Linked DNA regions of Homo sapiens. The protein of the gene in region 1 purifies or fractionates together with the protein of each later gene. This does not show direct contact. Each region holds a gene or a part of one and is shown on either strand. Other genes may lie near its edges.

What was found.
Region 2: the proteins of VSX2 (region 1) and USP12 purify together in Homo sapiens (affinity purification with mass spectrometry; 3 studies listed by BioGRID and IntAct, with this or other methods). This does not show direct contact.
Region 3: the proteins of VSX2 (region 1) and WDR48 purify together in Homo sapiens (affinity purification with mass spectrometry; 2 studies listed by BioGRID and IntAct, with this or other methods). This does not show direct contact.

Annotation. Positions count from the first base shown.
Region 1 is NC_000014.9:74,256,369-74,259,919, reverse strand, and holds part of VSX2 (visual system homeobox 2), read right to left. Parts: intron 319-3,551; coding exon 138-318; intron 1-137.
Region 2 is NC_000013.11:27,065,615-27,068,348, reverse strand, and holds the end of USP12 (ubiquitin carboxyl-terminal hydrolase 12), read left to right. Parts: 3' UTR 1-2,193; downstream 2,194-2,734. UniProt on the Homo sapiens protein: Deubiquitinating enzyme that plays various roles in the regulation of the immune response and inflammation.
Region 3 is NC_000003.12:39,058,445-39,062,100, reverse strand, and holds part of WDR48 (WD repeat-containing protein 48), read right to left. Parts: intron 1-3,656. UniProt on the Homo sapiens protein: Regulator of deubiquitinating complexes, which acts as a strong activator of USP1, USP12 and USP46. Enhances the USP1-mediated deubiquitination of FANCD2; USP1 being almost inactive by itself.

The DNA.
Region 1 (3,551 bases):
AGGTTTGCTTTGAAGAATTTCTCTCCTGCTAGGCTGCTGTGGCCCAAGTGCCCCTGCCTCAAGGCTCTGTCCCCTCCTCCAAGGAGCCCGCTCTCCTCACCGCAGGGCAGGACCCCAAGGAGGGTGCGGGCTCTTACCCAGTAGCCACGGGGCACAGGAGTCCATGATGCCATCCTTGGCTGACTTGAGGATGGACTCGGGCAGGGGGATGGAGTGCCGCACCATGGCCCCGTAGAGCCCATACTCCGCCATGACACTGCTCCGGCCCCAGCACTTCTCCCGCTTCCTCCACTTGGCTCGACGGTTCTGGAACCAGACCTGCAGGTGCACAGAACAGGTCAGAGGCTTGCTCTGAGAGGTGCTGGGCCCAAGGCCCTTACCCCTTGTAGGCTTGGAGTGAAGATTTCTCCAGCAGGGCGTCCTTAACCTAAGCTCGCCTACTCCATGGTGCCCTCTGTGTTCCTCCAGGCTCAGGGAGTATTCAGAAGGAGGACATCAGTCTTATGAGAATATCATGGGTAGTTCTAGGGAGATGGGGTATGGATGCTTCCTGGACAGGGTCTTGCAGGTGCGCAGGACCCAGTGTCATCGACTGTTTGCAGCTGAGAAGCCTGCCCTGCCACTGATGGCTCTCTTGCATGTGTTCACACCTCCAGCATATAAATCTTTTTTTCTGATTTGCAGAGGGACAAATTCCTTTCCCAGCACTGGACTAGCAGTGTCTCTGGCTCAGGGCTTCCTCTCTGCCAGAAGCCCAGAGTCACAACCATCCAGGAGGGCTGCAGGTGAGTGAGGGATCAGGGACAAAGGGCAGGGGACAGTCTTAGGGGCACTTCACCCAGGTATCAGGAAGGCTGGGAACTCAGGGAGGGAGACTCCCCTCGGAGGCCTGGGTCAGCCTGCCTCCTCCACCCTGTCCCAGCTAAGCTCTGCCAAACCACATGTGCCCTCCAGGTACCTGCTCCCCACAGCTCCGAGCCTAACTCTGAATAGTATTTGGGGAGCTGGACCAGGGATGAAGATAACATTCTCCAGGGTTGAGGAGCAAATGGGAGGAGGGACCTGGGAGGGAGTGGGGGCGGAGGAAGCACTAGCGAATGTGTCTCTGGCCCCAAAGCTGATTGGTGCAGGGTCTGAATGACAGTGGGGTACCCTGGGGTGTCTGCAGCACTCTAGCCCATTCTAGGATCCCAGAATCCCTGCCAAGTTTGAGGAGGGAACATTTCTTGGTCCCCCAGAGCAGCTTTCCGGAGATTTCCCGCAGCTGACAGAGCCGGGAGCCCCTCGCATTGTCCGCCAAGGAGGTCCAGGCCCGCGGGGTAATGGTGCGCCCCAAGCCTGGCGGTTCCCTTCTCGCCCCTCACAGTCCTTAAAGGCTCAGACCCCGGGGGCAGCGAGTCGCCCCAGGGAAGTCGAGGGAGTCGGGAGGGGAGGACCGAGGCGGGCTTGGGAAATCTGTTCATTTCCTCCCGATTTCCTTGCCTGGGTCTGGGCCGGCGCCGCCCTTCCCTCCGGGCCCCCTCCCCCGCGGCAGAGGTATCAGCTTTTAATGAAAAATTGCTCCAGCTCTATTCAGGAGGCGGCAAAAGAAGAGTCACCCCCAGGGGCAGCCCTGGGCTGATTGAAAAATAAGTTAATTTCAGTTTGAATCGATGGGCCTCAGGCACTGAAATACCACGGGAAATTAAAGCGGCTGCTCTCCCGGGAGCCGCGGCATTGACCCGCACTAATTAATGCTGGGGAGGCAGCACTCGCCTCGTCGCGAGCGCCCCCGCTTCCCCGGGGACCCCCAACTCTTCTCATTTAACTAATTAGACGGGGAAAATTGGGTGTTAATTTGTTTAGGATTTTCCCCCTTCCCCCCGGCAGCCCCTCGCGGCCCCCGCCCCGCGCGGCGCGGAAATGCATGCGGGCTCGGCGGCAGATGGCTGCCCGGGTCACGCTGCAATCTCCTCCGACTTGATTGCTTGATTAGGTCGTTAGCACATTAAAAAAAAATTGCTTGCCGTCTGGCGCTGGCGTGATGAGTGGGACGCTCGGCAGCGCCTGGGTAATTTATCTTTTTATACGGCGAAGAATTTGATTTCAATCTGCAGATATATGGGGCGCCTTTGACACCTGTTTAACATCGCGCCGCTGACAGCTTAACCCTTCGCTTCCTGGGGAGCGGGAGCTGGGGCCGGCGGGGCTCGGGGGAAGTGGGTGGGGGGTGGTCCGCGCGCTCCTGCGGTTCCCGCCGTTGCCGTCAGGTGGCGAAGTGAGCGCCCGGCGGCGCGGAGTCTGCGGCGGAGCGCGGCCGGCCAATCCCCGGCAGGGGCGCTCCGGCCCGCCAGCCTCGCATCCCACGGAGGTCACAGAACACTGCACGCGCACCTTTAAGTTGACCCAAACGCGTGTCCTCTGGCCTTTATTCATTTGTAAATAACTGGGAGCCTCTAAACATGGGAGCTACACGGCCTTAGATGCCCCCGGCCTCTCCCGCCCCGGGTGGCTCCATCCCCGTTTGGGCAGCACTTTTGCTGCCTCCGGGTTTGGCACCTGCAGTTCCCGCGCAAAACTGGGGGGCTGGGAAGCACAGGTGCAAGGCCTCTGCCTGGTCCGGACCTGACCACCCTGGGAGACCCCCGCCAAGGAAAGGGTTTGTGTAATCCGAAGGCCGCTAGATGACTGTCCTCCCTGCCCTGAAGGGAGTGGCAGCAATGCCAGCCGTGCTAACTCGGGCCTGCGTCCCGGCCTGGCTCCATGCCGTATGTAGATCTCCCCAGCGCCGCGGGCCTGTGCTGCAGGATGTGTGCCCGACTAGCTGTGTTACCCGGGGCCTGCGGTTTGTCTGGGGCCTCAATCCTGCCCCATCATCCTCCCCTTAGCGTATCTGCTTGCTGCAAGCTGCTTTCTCCCACAGAGGAAAAATCCAAAAGGACTAATCTACATAAAAGTATGACTCCCGGCCTGGCGCAGTGGCTCATGCCTGTAATCCCAGCAGTTTGGGAGGCCGAGGCGGGTGGATCACCTGAGGTCAGGAGTTTGAGACCAGCCTGGCCAACATGGGGAAACTCCATCTCTACTAAAGATACAAAAATTAGCCGGGCACGGTGGCGCACACCTGTAATCCCAGCTACTCAGGAGGCTGAAGCAGAAGAATCGCTTGAACCTGGGAGGTGGAGGTTGCAGTGAGCCGAGATCGTGCCACTGCACTCCAGCCTGTGCAACAGAGCAAGACTCTGTCTCAAAAAAAAAAAAAAAAAAAAAAGTATGACTCCCGGTTTTATCCACCTCTCAGAGAAGACAGCAAAGAATGAATCCCCTGGTGATGGAATTCCAGACACCAAGTGTGACCACAGAGGGCTGGAGAGGTTTGGTTCATGAATATAAGAAGCCACCTACTTCCTGGTCGGGTGACAGTCTGTCCTGCTTGAATACAGTGCATTATATTAGGTTGGTGCAAAAACTTATTGCAGTTTTTGCCATTGAAAGTAATTACTTTCGTTTGAGATGGAATCTTGCTCTGTCACCCAGGCTGGAGTGCAGTGGTGTGACATTGGCTCACTGCC
Region 2 (2,734 bases), on another chromosome or scaffold:
TCAGTTATTTTCTTCAGCTTTAATTTCATAAAATTAAAAAACTATTTTAAAAATTCCTGTAGTTGTTGGAATAATTAAAAATTCTGGTGCAGTGGTGGTATACCAATCTTTAGAATTCTTAAGTATTCTAATGTTTCAAGTTGAGATCATGCTTGGGAAAATCATGTCATAGCATTTATGTTATTTTCAGATGCCATTTTTTACCCTGGAAAGAAGTCATAATGTTCATCATAACCCTAGCAGCCTGGATAGTGAGCTAAACAAACCCTTCAAAGATTAAATTTTAATCAAGTAGACCGGGAATACAAAAGACAAGTCCTTCCTTCCCTTCCCCCCACCTTTACAAATCTTACTGGAAGGGTGTTCAGAAATTAAAATCTGTGTTTGCTAAGACTTCATTCTGTTGGGGGTTTTAAGAAGTAATATATGTAACATAAAATATATGTAAACGATTGCAGTTTTTTTGGACGTTTTTCCATGCATCAGTAAGTTGTCTGACAGTAGCCAAATGTAACTTGCAGAAAATTATTGAAAATTATATTCAGAATAATAGCAATCAGGCCTTGGATGTTCTTTATTAAACTCTTTTCAGGCAGTAAATTTAAAAAAAATTGTCATTTTCTAAAGTCCTTTTGCTAAAACTGTTGACTATGGAAAACAACAAAAAGGAATTTTTTAGTCTGCTGCTATTATTAACATTTATTATCTGTATCTTTTGGCTCAGGAAATGACTTCACCTATTTTTTCCATAAGCAGACCTTTAACAGAGTCACTTAATTGGGCTGCTTAAACAGATGTTCTGGGAGAAAATTATAATATTTAGTATTTGTACAAAATATCAAAAAGTATTTTGACAAGTTTCTTTTTAAGATAGTTCCTAAAGCCTTACCCTGGCTAGAGGTGTTTTGTACAAATTATATATAAGCCAGCCTGATCTACCAACATGCCACAGAGAATCACAATCAACAGTGTGGGGAAAGTCAGGGCAGTGGAAGTGGATGCACTCTTTTTATTTTGAAGGCTTAAACCAAATTGTCTTGGAATTAAAGCTGTATTTCTGCAGCTTTCGGTACAGAGAAAAAGAGGAAAGTGAAGCTGTGTCAGTTTTAACATTAGCTATATCAACATGTTTAAGAAAGATAGATGAAGTCATTTGCATAAAGGTACAGCATTGAAATACTATGTTGTGTTTGTTTTTACATTTTTGCATTAAAAAAAAACATGCCGTAAAAGCCAAGTTAAATTTCATATTAAAGCAAGTTCTAGTGTATGTGTTGAGTTCCTGGTAATCACATACTTGTTCACATCTACACCGTACTTCATAGTATGATTTGTCAGGGGAGGGATTGTGGGGTGACAGTTTTACATTTACTTTTTCTTCTTAATGCAGCTGGATCTAAGTAAAATGTTTTGAAGTTTATCAGAAACTAAATGTACTTTTAAAACGTATAGGGTCAGGGTTGGGGGAAAAATACAGGTATAGTAAGTAAGAAAAGTGACCCATGAAGAAAGCATCGTGAGGTTGTATGTTGGTTGACTGTGATTAAAATGCGGGGCTGGTGTAAGTTGTAAGTGGTGGCTGATTGCCGTGTAACTATGTACATGATTGTTGGGATGGCTGTCCCATATTTTGTATATTGGAATAAAAATTTCTATAAATTATTGTAACTAAAAGTAAATATTCTAAATTAAGTCCCACTTCTTAAGTCACATGGCTTCTGTCTTGGAAATTTTACCTTTAAAAGATTATTTAAGACAGGAACCAGGAGGCTTGGGAACAGGGAAAGAGGGAAATGTTGTATTATGTGGGTCTTGGGGCCTCTAACCATCAGTATAGGGTTTTTTCTTTCCTTGATGGCAGTAGAAAGACCTCATTTTCATAACATAACTACTCTTGATACTTTCTTTAAAAACACTTTTTATTAAAGATTCTATCATGAGGTATTTGGCTGGGAGCTGGGAGGCTAAAGCGCTCATGTCCTGGCTCTTCAGTGAATTTAACTGTGTGACCTTGGGCAAGTCACTTAACCTCTCTGTGCTTCAGTCTCCCTGTCTTGTAAAATGGGAGTAATACCTACCTCACAGGGTTGTTGTGGGGATTAATTAGAGATAATGTCTGTAAAGCATTTAAGGTTCTTGAAGAAGGCACTATATAAATACAAAATAATATCTATTAAAGTTGGTTTATTTGTGCCTGTGGGTTTCAAGTGTGTTTTTTCCTTTTTGCCTAAAATGTATTTACAGATTAGAAGTAGACACTTTGGAAACTGTGTTACTGCTTTTGCCCAAGCTCCTACTTCTGTATCCAAAGAGATTTTCCCTAGAACAGAATTGCATGTGTGTAAAACAACATTCTACATGTGCCTGCATTTATTTAGCACATAGTAGCTTGTGTCACCTTTCTGTGATAGCATGTCTGAAAAGTTCAAAGTTTAAATTTGAACATTGAGAGTCATAGAATCTTAGAGGGTAAAATAGGTAAAATACCTTAAAGATCACTGTTTCTCCTGCTCCTCCTCCTTTCCTGTGTAGTAATTGCTCCTGTAAAATCTGTTTTCACAAGTGGTCAGTCAACCTGCACTTGAGTGCTGGAAGCCTGTTCCATTATTGAGTAACTTGAGTTGTTATTTATGTTGCCATTATTTTCAGCCCATCCTTCATTCTCCCAGTGTGCTTCTGATCTCAAGGCTGATCTTTGTATTAGATGGCTTTCAGAGACTTCATCCTTCCTGGG
Region 3 (3,656 bases), on another chromosome or scaffold:
TAAAGAGCTTATGCACAGCAAAAGAAACTATCATCAGAGTGAACAGGCAACCTACAGAATGGGAGAAAATTTTTGCAATCTACCCATCTGACAAAGGGCTAATATACAGAATCTACAAAGAACTTAAACAAATGTACAACAACAACAACAACAAAAACAACCCCATCAAAAAGTGGGCAAAGGATATGAACAGACACTTCTCAAAAGAAGACATTTCTGCAGCAGACACAAGAAAAAATGCTCATCATCACTGGCCATCAGAGAAATGCAAATCAAAACCACAATGAGATACCATCTCATGCCAGTTAGAGTGGCAGTCATTAAAAAGTCAGGAAACAACAGATGCTGGAGAGGATGTGGAGAAATAGGAATGCTTTTACACTGTTGGTGGGAGTGTAAAGTAGTTCAACCACTGTGGAAGACAGTGTGGCGATTCCTCAAGAATCTACAACTAGAAATACCATTTGACCCGGCCATCCCATTACTGAGTATATACCCAAAGGATTATAAATCATTCTACTATAAAGAAACATGCCCACGTATGTTTATTGCAGCACTATTCACAATAGCAAAGACTTGGAACCAACCCAAATGTCCATCAATGATAGACTGAATTAAGAAAATGTGGCACATATACACCATGGAATACTATGCAGCCATAAAAAAGGATGAGTTCATGTCCTTTGCAGGGACATGGATGAAGCCAGAAACCATCATTCTCAGCAAACTATCACAAGGACAGAAAACCAAACACCACATGTTCTCACTCGTAAGTGGGAGCTGAACAATGAGAACACATGGACACAGGGCAGGGAACATCACACACTGGGGCATGTTGGGGGGTAGGGGGCTGGGGGAGGGATAGCATTAGGAGAAATACCTAATGTAAATAACAAGTTGATGGGTGCAACAAACCAACATGGCACATGTATACTTATGTAACAAACCTGCACGTTGTGCACATGTACCCTAGAACTTGAAGTATAATAATTAAAAAAAATTATCTCAAGTACCTATAGTGATTCTATTAGGAACAATTATACCCTTTCTCCACATCTTAAACCAAAAACGAATTTTTCTATGAATTAAAGACTGAAATTTAATAACCATAAAAATAATTTTTGTTTTTATTTTTTGAGAGAATCTTGCTCTGTCACCCAGGCTGGAAAGCAGTGGCCCGATCTTGGCTTACTACATCCTCTACCTCCCAGGTTCAAGCAATTCTCGTGCCTCAGCCTCCTGAGTAGCTGGGATTACAGGCATATGCCACTGTGCCCAGCTGATTTTTGCATTTTTAGTAGAGATGGTGGTTTCACCATGTTGGCCAGGCTGGGTTTCAAGTGGTCCACCCGCCTCAGCCTCCCAAAGTGCTGGGATTACAGGCGTGAGCCACTGCACCTGGCCAGCATAAAAATAATTTTTAAAAGACAGGTGAATATTTACATAGTCCCTTGCCAGAGAAAACTCTTCCAACATGCCAAGAAAGATGGTAATCTTTACGAAGGAAAAGAGCAATGGTGATCTGGCCAAATACAAGTCAAAACCTTTTCTATGTACAAGAATGTTCACAGCATTGTGGCATTCACAATAATGTTACAAAAGTGGAAACAACCCAAATATCCATCAATGGACAAAACAAATAAAATGTGATGTGTGTGTGTGCATATATATATATATATATGCACACACACACACTGTACTGACACATGCTATAACGTGGATGAACCTTGAAAATGTGCTAAGTGAAAGAAGCCACATATTTTACAAAAGGCCACATATTTTATGACTCTATTTATATATAATGTCTAGGATAGACAAATCCACACAGAAAGTAGATTAGTAATTGCCAGGAGATTGAAGGAGGGAAAAATGAAAAACGGGGAGTAATTGCTAATGAACATAGAGTAATTAAACATTCTGGAGTTAGGTGACCAATAAACAACTTTCCGAATATACAAAAAAATCACTGAATTGTACACTTTGAAAGGGTGCACTTTATGGTATGTGAATTTTATCACAATGTTATTATTTTCTTAAACCTTCTGAATGTCAAAAAGTAACACGAGCAAGACTAAGAGAATAATGAAATAAATATGAAAGAAAGTTTACTCTTAACAAGATTCCTTATAAAATAAGAAAAAGTCAAATTTACCAACAGAAAGAGGGACAGTTACAAAAAGGGACTTTTTAAAAAAGAAATGGCCAAAAACCCCATAAATAATCAAAGACAAAATTAATATGAGATTATTTTACCTATAATACAAGAATTTTTTAAAATAACTGCCATTTTTGTTTCCCCTGAGGATAAATAAACACTTTCTGACAAAAGTTTTAAACTCTTTGAAATGTTCTTTAAAATTCAATTTCCAGAAATTTGTCCTTTAAAAAGGGCCAGGGCTGCAGACACAAATAGCTACAAGGATGTTGTTTTAACCCAGTCTTTTGGATGCAATTAACTGTAACTGAGATCTACTCAAACCAGCTTTTGTTTGTTTGTTTGTTTTTTAAAGGAGACTTCAACACAAGGATATCTTAACAGAGCCCAAGGTCAGGAAATACAGTCATCATTTATAAGAGGCATTTAAAAAATCAAATCATGACACTTCTCTGCTGAAACTTTCCAATGGCTTTTCACAAAATTTAAAGTTCAAACTCCTCAAATGCTTAGTTCTGACCCTGCATCCCCCACTCATTTCAAACTGACTGCCCCCAGCTTCTTTTATGACAGTCATTCCAAACTCCTTTCTGTTACCGTAAACACATCAAGCTCTTTCCCATCCCAGTACCTTCTCATTTACTGTTGCCAGTGTCATGAAGATTCACCACCCCTCGAATCCCTATAGGAATACTCTTTCTCCAGCTTTCATCTTGTCTAACTCACCCTTACTCTTCAGATCTTAGGAGAAAGGTCTCCTTGGAAAGGCCTTTCTGATCTCATTCTCCTCAGGGTTATGACCCTATCTATCTTACATTACTTATTTAACAGTTCTTACCACATTCTGTATTTTTTTTTTTTTTTTTTTTTTGAGACGGAGTCTCACTGTATCGCCCAGGCTGGAGTGCAGTGGTGCGATCTTGGCTCACTGCAACCTCTGCTGCCCAGGTTCAAGCAATTCTCCCAACTCAGGCTCCCGAGTAGCTTAGATTACAGGTGCCTGCTATGGCGCCCAGCTAATTTTTGTATTTTTAGTAGAGACAGGGTTTCGCCATCTTGGCCAGGCTGGTCTTAAACTCCTGACCTTCTGATCCACCCACCTTGGCCTCCCAAAATGCTGGGATTACAGGTGTGAGCCACCGCGCCCAGCCACATTTATATTTTTTGGTGTATCTTCTCCATTAGAATAATAGCTCCAAGAAGGCAAGGGACTTGTCTGCCTTGTTCCTTCCACCCCTGTGCCCCCATTATAGTGTCTGGCATATAAAAGACATACGTATCATTGCATGAATTGGCTTTCCAAAGCCACCAGGAACCAAGCTAGCTTCAATGTCAACTTCAGCCTCTCTCAATCTCTCTTTCTCTGGGGTTCCAGGGCTGCTTACCTAGCTCACATTTCCTTTAACTGAGACTGTGCAGCATATCTAAATCTTGATATCCAGACTTCTGGGAGATTATCTGACTGGTTAAGGCAAGAGTGAAAGAATAACCTGAATGTCAG